2 separate regions of the Homo sapiens genome follow, and region 2 is linked to region 1. A link means that fine-mapping ties the variant in region 1 to the expression of a gene that starts in the linked region. Tissue or cell type: unexposed skin. Region 1 holds a variant in brackets; the other region holds the start of a gene. All regions are shown on one strand. Distances are from middle to middle.

What was found. PIP is the estimated chance that this variant, and not a neighbour inherited with it, causes the effect.
Region 2: PFKFB4 starts here. The variant in region 1 is fine-mapped to the expression of PFKFB4 in unexposed skin (GTEx, PIP above 0.99).

Annotation. Positions count from the first base shown.
Region 1 is chr3:49,297,813-49,305,915 of GRCh38, reverse strand. USP4 (ubiquitin specific peptidase 4) reads left to right here. Exons shown (of 22, transcript NM_003363.4): 9 at 28-201; 10 at 3,374-3,532; 11 at 5,225-5,449; 12 at 7,281-7,364; 13 at 7,952-8,046. Among named protein-coding and RNA genes, the nearest start is that of C3orf62, 25 kb to the right of the region's middle. RefSeq lists a silencer at 2,012-2,061. The variant T/A (reference allele first, on the strand shown) is at 3,342.
Region 2 is chr3:48,553,623-48,561,707 of GRCh38, reverse strand. It overlaps PFKFB4 (6-phosphofructo-2-kinase/fructose-2,6-biphosphatase 4), which reads left to right and starts at 4,905. Exons shown (of 14, transcript NM_004567.4): 1 at 4,905-5,027. The coding sequence starts at 4,931. RefSeq lists enhancers at 1,306-1,445, 1,501-2,442, 4,193-4,282, 4,413-4,502.

The sequences.
Region 1 (8,103 bases):
TAAAGCCCTCATCATGTTCTGTTTCAGTGTTTGAGCAACACTGCACCACTGACTGACTACTTTCTCAAAGATGAGTATGAAGCCGAAATCAACAGAGACAACCCTCTGGGGATGAAAGGGGAAATTGCAGAAGCCTATGCTGAACTCATTAAGCAGATGTGGTCTGGAAGGGACGCCCATGTGGCACCTCGCATGTTCAAAGTAGGTAGACATATATATATATGGGTTGGGTATCCCTGTATATAGATGCCTGGGACCAGAAATGTTTCGGGACTTCAGGTTTTTTAGGATTTTTTTTTATGGTATTTACATTATGCTTACTAGTTCAGCATCCCCATTCCAAAATCTAAAATGTTTCAGTGAGCATTTCCTTTGAATATCATGTCAGTGTTAGGTTATGGATCTTTAAGCATTTGGATTTCAGATTTTTGGATAAGGGATACTCTCCCGTACTTCCTTTTTCCCACTTTGGGGAGAGTGGTTTAGTGTTGTTATGAGGCATTCCTTTCGTTGCATTTTGGGATTAAGATGGGATCTGGGCCAGGCGCTGTGGCTCACGCCTGTAATCCCAGCACTTTGGGAGGCTGAGGCGGGCGGATCACAAGGTCAGGAGATTGAGACCATCCTGGCTAACATGGTGAAACCCCGTCTCTACTAAAAATACATAAAAAAAAAATTAGCTAGGTGTGATGGCAGGCGCCTGTAGTCCCAGCTACTCGGGAGGCTGGGGAAGGAGAATGGCGTGAACCCGGGAGGCAGAGCTTGCAGTGAGCCGAGATTGCGCCTCTGCACTCCAGCCTGGGTGACAGAACGAGACTCTGTCTCAAAGAAAAAACAACAACAACAACAAAAAAGTCCAGGCGTGGTGGCTCATTCCTGTAATCCCAGCACTTTGGGAGGCTGAGGCGGGCAGATCACGAGGTCAGGAGTTCGAGATCAGCCTGACCAACATAGTGAAACCCCGTCTCTACCAAAAATACAAAAATTAGCCAGGCGTGGTGGTGCGCACCTGTAATTCCAGCTACTCAGGATGCTGAGGCAGGAGAATTGCTTGAACCTGGGAGGTGGAGGGTGCAGTGAGCCGAGATCACGCCACTGCACTCCAGCCTGAGCGACAGAGTGAGACTCTGTCTCAACAACAACAACAACAACAACAACAAAATTAGCTGGACATGGTGATGTACCTGTAGTCCCGGCTACCAGGGAGGCTGAGGTGGGAGAATTACTTAAGCCTGGGAGGTCAAGGCTGCAGTGAGCTGTGATTGTGCCACTGTACCCAGCCTTGGCGACAGAGACCCTGTCTCTAAAAAAAATGAAAATTCAGTTTAATTTCTAGTATCATCTGAAGGCTGTTTCCAGGTTCTCTGAGCCTGGATTCTACAGGCTTCGTGGTTTGAGTTGGGACCCCCTAAGTCAGGAATTGGGCTCACATTCTTGGAAGGTGATGTGAGGGGCAGTTATCACTGGGGTCCCTCAGCCAGGAAGGTTTAAGGAGAAGACATGGATACACTCGGAGCAACTTGGGCTTTCCATTGCCCCAACTGCTTTTTCCTGCTGAGGTGGAGGTGCTTTGCTCCCTCCCGCTCAGCAGATTTAAGCTGAAATCTGAAAGATCCTATTTAGCCTGTACCACTGGGATTCATGGAGCTTCATGAAGCATATGATAAGAAAAGACATGCATATTTATGATTCAGAGAGGAAAAAAAATAGCACCTTAGCTCAGTGAGAAAACTAAAATCTCAGGTGGTTTGTTGAAATTGAAAACTAATTATCTTTCATCCCCTTGGTCACATGAATCCCTGGGAAATATATAAATGACTGTTCACATACTAAGTCACAAAGAAACTAGAATTGGGTGGCAACGGCTGGGTGCGGTGCCTCACACCTGTAATCCCAGCCCATGGGGAGGCCAAGGTGGGTGGATCACTTGAGGTCAGGAGTTCAAGACCAGCCTGGCCAATATTGTGAAACCCCATCTCTACTAAAAATACAAAAATTAGCCAGGCGTGGTGGCATATGCCTGTAATCCCAGCAACTCGGGAGGCCAAGGCATGAGAATTGCTTGAACCTGGGAGGCGGAGGTTGCAGTGAGCTGAGATTGCGCCACTGCACTCCAGCCTGGCAACAGAGTGAGACCCTGTCCCAGAAAAAAAAATAAAAAAGAATTGGGTGGCAACACACTGTGCTGAAGCTAATGTAAATAAACAACTGGAAGGTAGTGTTTAGGGGTATTAGGGAAGTGTGGAGCTTCCTCAGTGATGGATGTGTTATATATCTGCACTGTGTTTTGGTAGCTACCAGCTCAAGCACCTCTGAGCACTTGAGATGTGGTTCATTTGACCGAGGAACTGAATTTTTAATGGTTTTTAATTGTAATTAATGTAAATTTCAATTGCCATATGTGGCTAGTGGCTATGGTATTAGAGAACAGGTGTAGAACAGTGGTTCTCCTTTTTTTTTTTTTTTTTTTTTTTTTTGAGACAGCCTTGCTATGTCGCCCAGGCTGGAGCGTACTGGCACAATTTCGGCTCACTGCAGCCTCCGCCTCCTGGGTTCAAGTGATTCTCCTGCCTCAGCCTCCTGCGTAGCTGGGATTACAGGTGTGCACCACCATGCCCAGCTAATTTTTGTATTTTTAGTAGAGACGGGGTTTCACCATGTTGGCCAGGCTGGTCTTGAACTCCCAACCTCAGGTGATCTGCCTGCCTCAGCCTTCCAAAATTCTGGGATCATAGGCATGAGCCACCGTGCCTGGCTGGTTCTCCATAGGATGCATCACAATCTCTGGGAGTGCTTAATACAACACAGACTGCTAGACCCATCCCCAGAGTTTCTGATTGAATAGGTTTGGTGTGGGGCCTGAGAATGTGCTTTTCTACTAAGCTCCCAGGTGATACTAATGCTGCGACTGGGGACCATACTCTCAGAATAACTGGTGGAGAGTATTACTGGACAGACAGTATTTAGGGACCTGAGGGCTGTTATGTACAGGAGGATTCCTCCAGCTGATGAAAGTATTGTTTGTAATGTCCTTATGGAGTTTAAGACTCTGAACCAAAGAAGGACATGTTGGAGAGGGATTCATGTCAGTACTTGGGTGTGGTTACTCAGGGTACTCCACCCTTCCTCCTTAGGACTTAGGGCAGTGGCCCAGGTTCCAGGTTCATCCTCCTGGCTCTCTGATCTAGGCCTTCTTTCTGGTGGGAACCACTGGCCTCCTGTAGGCTCTTCAGGAGTTAATTGGACTACTCAACCAAGTGTTCTCTCTCACTGCCCCAGCTAACTCCTCAGAGCTATTTTTGATGGCAATTCTTTTTTGATTTAACTAGTTCTTTACGTAT[T/A]ATGCCTTCTGATACAGTTGCTTTTGTTGTAGACTCAAGTAGGACGTTTTGCTCCTCAATTTTCTGGCTACCAGCAACAAGATTCTCAGGAGCTGCTGGCCTTTCTTCTAGATGGATTGCATGAAGATCTGAACCGGGTAAAGAAAAAGCCCTACTTGGAGCTGAAGGATGCCAATGGGCGGCCAGATGCGGTATGCCATTAATGATGTCTGAATGATAATATGCCAAAGAAGCTGCCTCCTATTGAGAGTGCAGGGATATTCTTCTGGTCTTTGAGTGTTGTTGCCAGGGCCCTGGTTGCTTCTCACTGTAGCTAGTTATAGGGATATGGTCTCTGGTCAGAAAGGGGCTAACTGTAGTTACTGCTTTTTTTTTTTTTTTTTTTAAATAGAGACAGAAACTTGCTGTGTTGTCTAGGCTGGTCTCCAGCTCCTGAGCTCAAGCAGTCTTCTCACCTCAGCCTCCCAAAGTGCTGGGATTACAACAGGCGTGAGGCACTGTACCCTAGTTACTCCTAAGGCTTCCTCTTGGGCTTTTTCAAATTAGAGTGAGCTTGTTTGATATTTCACTGGTGAACTAGGGACTAAGAACACTCTGAAAACTGTAAAGTACCTATAGTGAGGACCCCTAAGATTGTTATTGCTCACAATAAAATCCATCCATGATTACTTAATTTGTTATTAGTATCATTAGGACATTTATACCTTTTGCCTTGATTATCTGATCAGTGCAAGAGGATTTTAGTATTTCAGCTACCCTATCACATTGGGATAATCAATATGAATGCTTTAAAGTAAAATTTAGATCTTCTTAGAAAAACTATGAGTTAGCTGAGCTGTAGTATAGATAAAAACTTTATTTTTAAAATTTATTTATTTATTTTTTTTGAGATGGAGTCTCACTCTGTTGCCCAGGCTGGAGTGCAATGACGTGATCTTGGCTCACTGCAACCTCCACCTCCCGGGTTCAAGCGATTCTCCTGTCTCAGCCTCTCAAGTAGCTGGCACTACAGCCACGTGCCACCATGCCCAGCAAATTTTTGTATTTTTAGTAGAGAGGGGGTTTCACCATGTTGGCCAGGCTGATATTGAACTCCTGACCTCTGGTGATCCGCCTGCTTCGGCCTCCCAAAGTGCTGGGATTTCAGGCGTCAGCCACCGTGCCCCGCCAAAAACCTTACTTTAGATCACTGGAAACATATAGGGGGGCTTTCCTTGCCCTGGCCATGTCTCTGTACCGATAGTGTTCTCCGGGCTTCTGTTTCTTATCAGGACACACAGACCCCTAGTTTCCAATAGGTCCTATGTTGCCAACCTTATTAAGTGTGAGGATTAGGGCGAGGCGCAGTGGCTTTCCCCTGCGGTTCCAGCACTTTGGAGGCTGAGGTGGGAGCATCACTTGAGGCCAGGAGCTCTAGAACTGTCTGGTCAACATAGTAAGACCCCCATCCCTACCAAACCTAAAAAAATTAGCCAGGCATGGTGATGCATGCCTATAGTCCTAGCTACTTGGGAGTCTGAGGCAGGAAGATCGCTTTGAGTCCGGGAGGTTGAGGCTGTAGTGAACCATGATCACGCCAGCCTGAGCGACAGAGCAAGACCATGTCTCAATCAATCAATATAATATATATTTGAAATATGTATATATATAAACATATATGTGAAATATATATATGTGTGTTGGGGTGGGGATTGGGCGTAGAGCTGGCATGTGGTATGAGTATGATACACTAAGAGTAGTCCTGGCCTTGTTTGTCCTGGATCAAGCTCTTGGCTGTACAGATTGCCACCTGATTCATCTCCAGGTTTGCTGTGAGTCATTCTGGATGCAGGGGCAAGGGGCTGAGAGGTGTTGAGAATGTCCTGTTTATCCCTTTGACGCAGGTGGTGGCAAAGGAAGCCTGGGAGAATCACAGGTTGAGGAATGATTCTGTGATTGTGGATACTTTCCATGGCCTCTTCAAATCTACTTTGGTTTGCCCAGAATGTGCTAAGGTTTCTGTGACCTTTGACCCATTTTGCTATCTAACGCTGCCACTGCCCTTGAAGAAAGATCGAGTTATGGAGGTTTTCCTGGTTCCTGCTGACCCTCACTGCAGACCTACTCAGGTGACAGAATCCACACCCTTATGGCACCCCTCACTGCAAGTGGTCTCCAGATCCCAGTGGGACTGCTCCTATCTGCTGCATTGGCTGCCTCTGAGTCCCCTTGGTACTTGCCTGGGTATGGGCCCTTGGCCTCCATCAGACCTTTGTCTAATCCCATATCATTTAAGGCCTATTGTGAAGGTCTTTGCAGCTTCTTTGCTTCTCTGTCACTTTTTTTTTTTTTGAGACAGAGTCGCTCTGTTGCCCATGCTGGAGTGAAGTGGCATGATCTCAGCTCACTGTAACGTCTTCCTCCCAGGTTCAAGCGATTCTCCTACCTCAGCCACTCAGTAGCCGGGATTACAGGCGTGTACCACCACGCTCAGCTAATTTTTGTATTTTTAGTAGAGACATAGTAGAGACAGGATGTTACCTTGTTGGCCAGAACTCCTGACCTCAAGTAATCTGCCCATCTTGGCCTCCCAAAGTGTTGGGATTACAGGCGTGAGCCACCGCACCCGGCCTCTGTCACTTTTTTGGCCACACTTCATTCACGCGACTAAAGTAACCTGATCTACTAAGTGGTTCTTGAATCTGAATGTTGGGGAACCAGAAGCACGGTTCTTTTCGTACTCAGATATACCCTCACATAACCTAGGACAGCCTGTACAGAAGATTAGGCCAGATGAGAGGTGTGAGCAGCAGGTCTTAGTGTCTTACCCTGCTGATGGCTCACTGAGTAATTGTATTGCTTAGCCTTCTGGTTTTGGTTTCTTTGTCTCTAAAGAAAGTTGAGGGCCGGGCGCGGTGGCTCACGCCTGTAATCCCAGCACTTTGGGAGGCCGAGGCGGGCAGATCACGAGGTCAGGAGATCCAGACCATCCTGGCTAACACGGTGAAACCCCGTCTCTACTAAAAATACAAAAAATTAGCCAGGCATGGTGGCGGGCGCCTGTAGTCCCAGCTACTCGGGCAGCTGAGGCAGGAGAATGGCGTGAACCCGGGAGGCGGAGCTTGCAGCGAGCCAAGATTGCGCCACTGCACTCCAGCCTGGGCGACAGAGCGAGACTCCGTCTCAAAAAAAAAAAAAAGTTGAGGCAGGCTGGGCACGGTGGCTTACCCCTGTAATCCCAGCACTTCAGGAGGCCGAGGCGGGCAGATCACGAGGTCAGGAGTTCGAGACCACCCTGACCAACATGGTGAAACCCTGTCTGTACTAAAAATACAAAAATTATCCAGGCGTGGTGGTGCGCGCCTGTAATCCCAGCTACTCAGGAGGCTGAGGCAGGAGAATCGCTTGAACCCGGGAGGTGGAGGTTGCAGTGAGCCAAGATCGCGTCACTGCGCTCCAGCTTGTGTGACAGAGCAAGACTGTGTCTCAGAAAAAAAAGAAAAAAGAAAAAAAAGAAAGTTGAGGCCGGGCTTGGTGGCCAACACCTGTAATCCCAGCACTTTGGGATGCTGAGGCGGGAGGATTGCTCGAGGCCAGGAGTTTGAGACCCTGTCTCTACAAAAAATAAAAATAAAATAAAAAGGTAGGACCAGATGGCAATTTGAATTTGTATAATTTCAGCAGTTCTTCAGAAAGTACTCTAAAGAATTAAGAATAAAATGAAGCAATGTTTGGAAGAGAAAGAGATGGCCTAGCCCCCATGCTGCTGCCTGTGTATTGAGGAGGATGCTGACATAGAGGTCCTGCTTATTTGCTCTGCTTCTGACTCATCTGTACCCTGACCTCACCATACATTGTTTCTAGAAGGGCTCCTCTGCCCCTAGTGATGCCTGCTTCTCCTAATGCATTTCGCACCCTTTGTGGGGCACCCCTGTGACCTTGACCATCTCTGTCTTGCAGTACCGTGTGACTGTGCCGCTGATGGGGGCTGTGTCCGACCTGTGCGAGGCTCTCTCCAGGCTGTCTGGCATTGCTGCAGAAAATGTAAGGCGGGGTGATCAGTGGCACTCGGTCTATTTGGGATACTTCATAGCATTTGGAGTTTACTTTCAACCTTGAAGCCACTTTTTGGGGTTGTTGTTATTGCCAGCACAAATGTGATTATTTGTGTGTGTCTGGATGCCTCACTCACTATGCACATTGTGACTGAGACTGTCCCTTCCAGCTCCAGGAAACACTATCTTTCCTTCATTGGGTTCACACTAGCCGTGGTCAAAGGACCAGGAGTAGGGCTCTGCTGTCAGATCTGTGCACTGAGGGTGGCATAGAGACTGCAGACTATGGAATACTCCAGAGGCTCTGGACAACTGCTGGTTTCTGGTTAGCACCACACTCCTCGCCCTTCCTGCCAGTCGAGGGCAGATGCTACCAGCATGTTCAATTCTGATGGCAGCCATGCTGCTCCCCCTTGGGCCTTGGCCCTCAGCTCTCTGGGGCTGTTTGTGTGGTGGTTTCTCTAGAGGCAACATTTGAGTATGAGTATTTTTTTTTTCATTTGTTTCTGGGTTTTAAGCAGTTAGTAGGGGCACTCTTAGCCATTCTGTGGTCTTTCTGTTACTGTTCATTCTTAGATGGTGGTCGCAGATGTGTATAATCACCGATTCCACAAAATTTTCCAAATGGATGAAGGTTTAAACCACATCATGCCTCGGGATGACATTTTCGTGTGAGTACTCAGCAGTTTCTGCTGCAGGTCAGGTCAGAGGACACATTCTAGAGACTT
Region 2 (8,085 bases), 740 kb after region 1:
ATTGTGTATGTAGCAGACATGGAGGTCCTGCAGCAGGAGGTGCTCAATAAACACAAAGCGACTGAAGGATGGGATGTGCGAGAATCCCAGTGGTGTGCACCCAGGCCGCGACACATGGTGGGTGAGTCATACCTGGCTTCTCTGCCTTCCTCCCTAGCTCCCCGGTTAACTGACCTGGTCCCTTGGTTTGGAAGGACTAGGTTTTGCCTGATTTCACAGCCCAACTCCATTGCTGGGCCAGAGACAGAACTGACTTTCCAGGCAGTGTGGACGGGCTTGCCCGCAGAGGGGGCAGGCACTCTGGGCTGTGCAGACAACTCTAGGTGGACATGAAGGCAGACGCTGGGTGGCATGGGCAGCTCTGGCGGGAGAGGGAGACTGTACTGGCCACAGCGTGGCCGGCTGACTGGAGTGGGGGCACTGGCGCTGCCCTCACAGTTGTAAGCAGCCCTGTGGGGGCGGGCCTACAGTGGGCTGGGGAGGCGGGGCTGCAGGAGCCGCAGGAGTCGCTTCTCTCTCTTCAGAGTGCTAGGCGGGGTTACCCCACTCTGGAGCTGCAGGGGGCAGTGGCCCTGGCCAGTTTGGTTGCAGGATGGACAGAGGCTCGTTAGGAGGCAGCTCCCTGACCGACCTGGGGCCGGGGAGCAGCAGGCGGGGTAGGCACGGGACAGCGTGGGGAGGGTGGAGGGTTAGGGAAAGACCTGGATGAAGTCAGGGTGGTGCTGGAGGGGTGCGAGAGTGTTGGGGGGTCTCTCCTGGTTTAGGGGTGCTCTGAGGGCCATTCATCTGTCAGTGGCCCGAAGGAGGGGGAAAACTGTCGCCCTGCAAGGGAGAGGGGGCTGGGCCAAGGGGGAACTATAAATAGTGTCTTCCTCCAGCCCAGGGGGAGGGACCGCCAGCTGGCGCTGCCCAGGCCCTCCTGCTCTGCTCTTTGCTGGCCTCCAAGGGATCATGTTTGTCCAGGTTTCCTCTTGGGGTCACACCAGTTTGGGGAAGTCTAGAGGCTCATTTAGGATGGGTTTCACATGATGTGGCTTTAGCCCTTAAACCAGCACTTCTAGGGTGTCTGCTGTGTGCCCTGTGCCAGTCCTGAGCTTCTCTGAACACCTGCTGTGTACTCAGTTTGGTCATGAACCTCTCTGAACCCTTTCTGTGTGCCCTTGCTGGTCCTGAATCCCTAAGCACCTACTGTACGCCCTGTGGCAGGCTGGAAGGAGGAAGTGCAGATCAGGGTTCCCAGGCTGCTTGGTGACATGGTTCTATAACCTGAAGTCAGAACTTCACACTCCTTGTGAGCCCTGGGCCCAGGGAGACACAGGGGACAATCCTTTGCTGGAAATGGCCAGAGGAAGCTGGAATTCCTGGAAACTCCTGAACCTCCCAGTGGACAGCAGGGCTGGGGGTGGAGAGATATATGTGGGAAGGGAGGCAGCAGAGAGCAGCAGGCCCCACTGCAGCCTGCCTGTCTCTGCACATGCTGGGGTGCAGGACTTGTGAGTGTGTGTGCGTCTGTGTGTGCATGTGCAGCTGTGCCAGTGTCTCTGTGTGCATCAGTGTGTGGGCCTGTGTGGCATGCACTGAAACCCCTGGGTCTTTATGCTGCAAAGGGTGGTTTGTGGGCCAGATGTGGTGGCTAATGGCTATAAACCCAGGGCTTTGGGAGGTTGAGGCGGGAGGATCGCTTGAGGCCAGGAGTTCAAGGCTGCAGTGAGCCATGATTGCACTATGTGCTCCAGGCTGGGTAACAGGAGCGAGACTGTGTGTGTGTGTGTGTGTGTGTGTGTGTGTGTGTGTGTGTGTGTGTGTGTGGTGGGATGGTTTGGCAGTTCTGTCAGGACTGGCCAGTAGATACAGGGACTGGGAAGAGTTTGAGCTTTGAGAACTGGCCACCACATGGCTTCTAGGCTGGGACACTGGGAGGAAGTCCAGTGGTCAGTGCAGAGGGCACCCTGGGAGCCAACCAGGGTCAGGCCAGCCAGGTTCATGGTGGGCAGAGGCTGAGCAGAACATGTTCACACGTGTGTACAGACATCCCAGCATACTTCCCACGCCTGGGACAGAACAGCTGGCTCACTTTCGGATATACTGAGGAGGAAAAAGCCATGAGGGCCAGAGATTCTACCGGGCATCCGCTGATGCTGAGAGAGCAGACGCTGGGACAGCATCTCCATGGAGAGGACACAGGGGAGTGGGAGCACACATGTGAAGGTGGACTGTGCGATTCCACTGTAGTGTGGCAGGCAAGGTCTGGAAGGCTGGGAGTTGAGCTGAGTCCATGCTGCACTGTGGACTCGCTTTGTGATCTTGGACCCTTCTCCCTCTTCCTGACCCTCAGTTTCCCACCTGACAAACAGGGCCATGGGAGGGGAGATGGAGAATATCCTCAGAGCAGATGTGGACGGTGGCCTTGGGGAGGAACCCCAGGCATCTCCTGATGTTGACCTGTGGCCTTCCAGCTGGACATAGGGCCTTGAAGGAGGGTGCCTGGGTCAGCCACGGGTAGACTTTCTGGGGAAGAGAGGAAGGTGCAGAGCTGTTGCATTTCCTGGGAACCAGGCTCATCCTGTCTGGGTGTGAGGATGCCTTCCCAGAGATAGCCCTGGCCCCCTGCCCAGGCCAGCTGTCCTCTACCCCCAGCCCTTGATTAGCATCCCAGGAGGTCTGGGAAGAGAATGGACAGGCCAGAGGAGGTGCTGGGTGTCTGTAGATATCAGAGGAGATAGCTTTTGCAATGAGTGCTGCGGGTTAGACAGGGTGTGGGCATGTGGTAATGAGGTCTCAGAGGCCACGGTGGCCCCAAGATGGCCTTGGCAGTGGCCAGAAGACAAGAGGGCTGGCTGTGTCACGAACAGAATGAGTGGCTTTGGAGAAGTAGGGAGCAGGTCACGAGGGGCACCCAGCTCATCAGGAGCCGCCCATGGATGTGCTCAGATCTGCTGGGACTGGGGTGGAGGAATAAGCGGGTAGATACTGCAAAAGGAGGATGAGGAAGGAGGAAGTTGTTGACTCTGCCTGGGGCAGGGTGTTCCCAGGGCAAGCAGCTAGAGCTGGTTTGGGGGAGGGTCCAGATGGGCTTCCAGCATGTGGACCTTTGGAATCTTCAGTTCCTATGAAGTGGGCAAGACATCTGTGTCAGTCATCTTAAGGGTCCTTGCCAAGCTTTAAAGAGCTGGGTGGACTTGGACTGATCCAAGGCAGGGCTGTGGCAGGGAGGGCATGGGAGGGGGTGCTACACCTATAGCCCACGAGGCCAGTCTTGTTGCCAGTCCCATGCCCTCAACACCTGGCTCCTGGCTGGGTACACACTGGGCAGAGAGAACCTGAGGATGCAGGGCACCTGCCAGGGGTGTTGTGGATGACATCGCTAGAGGGCAGTGTGGCTCAGGTTGAAGCCGTGTTGGTGGGGGCTGGGGCAGAGAGTGTACAAAGCTTGGAGAGGCGGGGCTGGGGATCCCGAGGAGGCGGGAAACTGCAGGAGTCCGGTGGGGGCCAAACAAGAAAGTGAGCCAGGGGTTTAGGAACTTCTGGATCTCTCCCTTGTTCCTTGTCCCCAGTGCATTTTCAAAGACAAGAGGGAGATACAAATATAGTAAAAGGCAACCATAACGTATTTTAAAATGAATTTCTTAGAGATTGACATACTTAATTTATACTGTAATACTGTAAGATAGACAATGTGCACATCCCATTTTCCTGAAGAGAAAATGTTATTAACATATTATTTTCAAAAAATATGTAAAACTTTAGTTAAAAAAACCAAAATACTAAAAATCAAAAAAAAATTGTAAAAAATGAAATTCTGGAAAGACGATTAAGATACTCCCAGGGCTTAGTGAGTACCCAAAGTACTTGGTTACTAAGTGCCACGCACGGCCGGGCGCGGTGGCTCACGCCTGTAATCCCAGCACTTTGGAAGGCTGAGGAGGGCGTATCACCTGAGGTCAGGAGTTCGAGACCAGCCCGGCCAACGTGGTGAAATCCCGCCTCTACTAAAAATACAAAAATTAGCAGGGCGTGGTGGTGGGCGCCTGTAATCCCAGCTACTTGGGAACCCGAGGCAGGAGCATCCCTTGAACCCGGGAGGCGGAGGTTGCAGTGAGCCAAGATAGCGCCATTGCACTCCAGCCTGGGCAACAGGAGCGAAACTCCGTCTCAAAAAAAAAAAGTCCCACGCATTTGCTCCCAGCAGCCAAAGCAAAGAAAGAGGAACAATATTGAAATGTGTTTTGAGTCTCTATCCATGAGGTAAAAGAGCTTTTCCAGCGTGGTTGAGCATGCTCCTATGGACGGCGGAAGAGTCCCGGGGCTCGGAGCAGTCAAGGGGGACCCCGAGGAGGGGCAGGAGGGCGCAGCGGAGTTGACGGCTGGGACTGCAGGCCTACTGGCCCCTGTCGGCTCTGACCAACCTGGCCGTGCGGGTCACGTAGGCCTCGTCCCACTGCATGAAAACCCCTCCCTCCTGGGGGCCCTGGGCTCCCTAGCAAGGAGGTAGCAGAATTCACGCGTGCCGCTGCTCAGGGATGCAGCGCCAGGGCGGAGCCCGTAGGTGGGGCCTATGCAAATCAGCGCGGGCAGGTTGGGAGAGCTGAGTTTGCGCATCCGGGGCGGGCCTGCACAATCCGGGCCTTGAACTGGGGCGGGACCAGTACAATCCGGAGTTGAGCATGCGCATTCTCGATCCTGGCCTGAAGAACTGGGCCCACTTGTTCCAAAACGGGCGGGTAGGTGAGTTGGGCATGCGTGGTCGGAGGCCGGGCCCCTTTCAGCTGGGGCGGAGCCTACTCACTCTGGGGCGGGACCTGCGGGAAGATAGACATGGGCTGTCGCGGCTTGAGGAGGGGCGGGGCCCAAGGGGCGGGACCTCGGGTGGCCCGAGGTGGCCCGGCTGCTGGGTTGGAAGCGGCGCAGTCCGACTCATCCCGGCCCCGGGATGGCGTCCCCACGGGAATTGACACAGAACCCCCTGAAGAAGATCTGGATGCCATACAGCAATGGGCGGCCCGCTCTGCACGCTTGCCAGCGCGGTGGTGAGGCGGGGTCCTCTGGGAGGAGGTGGGAGGTGCACCGGGATGGGTGGGTAGGGCGGCCTGGGCGGGGGTCTCGCATGGAGAAGGGGCGGGAGACAGATGGGGAACCGGGGACAGGTGAGGTTGCCGTGACTGGGGAGGCTGCTGGGGACAGGTGAGGCGGTCGTGACAGTGGTGGGCCAGAGACAGGTGTGGCAGAGCAGGGGGCGGGGACAGGTGTGTGGGGGCATATCGGCTTGGCGGTGGCTAGGTCTGGCCACCATCACCTCGGGGAGGGCTCTGGCCCCCTCGCTTCCCTCTCCAATCCCCATCGCCCCCAGTCTGGGGAGGACCCTGTGGGCACCCCAGGCCCTTCCCTCTCTCCTGGCCAAGGAGTGTGGGCCGGGTTGTTGGACTGGAACTGAGCTGTGTGGCCCTAGGTGAATTACTTGGCCTCTCTGAGCCCAGAACTTTCAAAGGTGGGCTAGTTTTCCAACAGGAGGAAGGGTGCCTCTTGGCCTTAAAGCTGAGCTTGGGCAGGAACTTCAGCAGAGATGTGCTCAGGATAGAGACAGAAAAGTATGCCGTGTGGGCCTGTGTCTGTGTCCCGGGACATGTAAGTATCCACCTGGGGTCATGGGTGTACAGTAAAACTGGAGAGTGAAACAGCTAGGAGAATGCTGAAATTCATGGAATTGTTAAGGGGCTCACCTCTCCTAGGGTCCCAGGTGTTTAAACCGCTTCCTTGAGTTTCTGCCTGTCCTTAAATGAGCTGGCAGTTTTTTTTTTTTTTAAGAGATGAGTCTCGCTCAGTGGCCCAAGCTGGAGCAAGTGCAGTGGCGCGATCATAGTTCACTGCAGCCACGACCTTCTGGGCTCAAGCAATCCTCCCACCTCAACCTCCCGATTAGCTGGGATTATAGGTGCGCCACCACACCCAGCTTTTTTTTTTCTTTTTTCTTTTTTTTTGTAGAGACAGGGTCTTGCTATGTTGTCTGGGCTGGTCTCCAACTCATGGCTTCAAGTGGATCCTCTGGCCTCGGCCTTCCGAAGTGTTGAGATTACAGGCGTGGGTCCTGGCCTGCAACTTTTTTATTACCAGGAAAAGAAAGATTTGTTTTAGGAGTAACTGAAACATTGTAATGAATTTGCAGCTTGTCCAGCACCTCAGAGAACATCTAGTTTAACAGACAGTGAAATGGAGATCAGGAGATTGAGTGACATGCCTGGGTCTCCCTGTGATCCTGCCTCTGCTTATGTATGATAAGCAAGGGGAGAGTTCTTTGTGCTCATCCTGCTGCAGCAGCCTGGAGCCATGGCTTTGATCATGATATGAGTCCTGGGGGAAGGGTGTGTGTATTTCTGGCCACACTGTGAGTCCTGGCAGGGGAAGGCCATGTTTCTGACCAGACCAAGTCGTGGTAACTCATGGCTTTGATTGTGATGTAGGTCCTGGTGGGGCTGTGCTGTCTATAATGCACACTCAGTCCTGAGGGCTATGGCCACCCCTCCTTTGAGACTCTTCTGGAGGCGGGGAGGCTGAGCCAGTCTGTGTTATTAGGGCTGTGTGGTCCTGACTTAGGGGGGTGGCTGCTATTACTACATAGGGGAAAGGAGTGAGGACCTGGACTTTTTTTTTTTTTTTTTTTTTGAGACGGAGTTTCACTCTTGTTGCCCAGGTTGTAGTGCAGTGGTCCTATCTCAGCTCACTGCAACCTCTACCTCCTGGGTTCAAGCAATTCTCCTGCCTCAGCCTTCCAAGTTGCTGGGATTACAGGTATGCGCCACCATGGCCGGCTAATTTTGTATTTTTAGTAGGATGGAGTTTCACCATGTTGGCCAGGCTCGTCTTGAATTCGTTATCTCTAATGATCTGCCCCCCTTGGCCTCCCAAAGTGTTGGGATTACAGGCATGAGCTGCCATGCCTAGCCAAGTCTGTGAGCCTTTAAGGAGTAGGTCCTCAATAAGCGGAGGCAGGGTATTCTGTCATCACTACCATTCTTTCTTTGCTTCTCACTACGTCTGAGTCAGGGATTGATGCATCAGCTCCAAGCCAACCCCCGTTACAGGTGAGAGGAAGCTGAGGCCCAATGGGAAGGTCTCATAGCTCCTGAGGCAGGGCTTGTGTTTCTCCAGGCTCTAAGTGTGGAACTGAAATGTGGCTCTGGCCTGAGCTGAGGGGCTCGTGCCATCACGGTGTCTCAGGGTGTTGGGGTAGGCTGGGTTCTAGGTCCGCACTTTTTCCTGGAGGAGGAGGTAGCACCTGAGAGGCCAAAGATGAGACCTGCAGGTTGTTTGGGGATTTGGGCCTCAGGGTTCACAGCAGGGAGTGGGTAAGCAGTGAATGAACATGGAACCCGCCCATGCAGCACCTCCAGCTCCCAGTGCCTGCATTTGGGCAACACTTTACCCTTTGCATAGTAGACTTGTAGGTTGAGTGACTGCAAGGACAGTCTGGACCCGGAGGGTGTGGGTGGGGATGGAAGCGGATTTGGTCCCAGGGCTTTGTGGGGAGGAAGAAGCAGGACCCACTGCTGGTCTGTGCTTTGTACTGGGTTTTCTCTGGAGTCTAGTCCCCAGCTCCTCAGGGCACTAGGGGCTGGTGGACTGAGGGATGTACTGCACCTCCTCCACTCCCACAGGCACGCCCCCGCTTGATAAAATTTAAAGCCACACCTGAGGGCTTGGGAGGCTTTTACCTTTCCCATCATTGGCCTCCGAGCTCAGACCTGGAGGAACTCTGAGGGCAGGTGGGGCAAGAGCTGACTCAAGAAGGACTGCAGAAAGGACGGTGTTTGATGGCTTTTCTCAGCTGAAAGGTGGCAAGACTCTTCCTGGGTAAGGACATGACTGGTGTGTGCACAGGGCAACAGGAGAGATGACTTTCAGTCCCCTCTGAAAAGGGCCTCCATGGCACGTTACTTTATTTTAAAGAGCTCTTCCTTCCCTAGCCTGGCCTAAGGAGGTGAGAGCAGTTGCAGTTCAGGAGTCAATTCTGGCACCCCCTCCAGGGACTTGTGGCTGCTCCTTGGGTAGAAGTAATGGAACATAGACACTGCCCATTGCCAGGCACGTCTC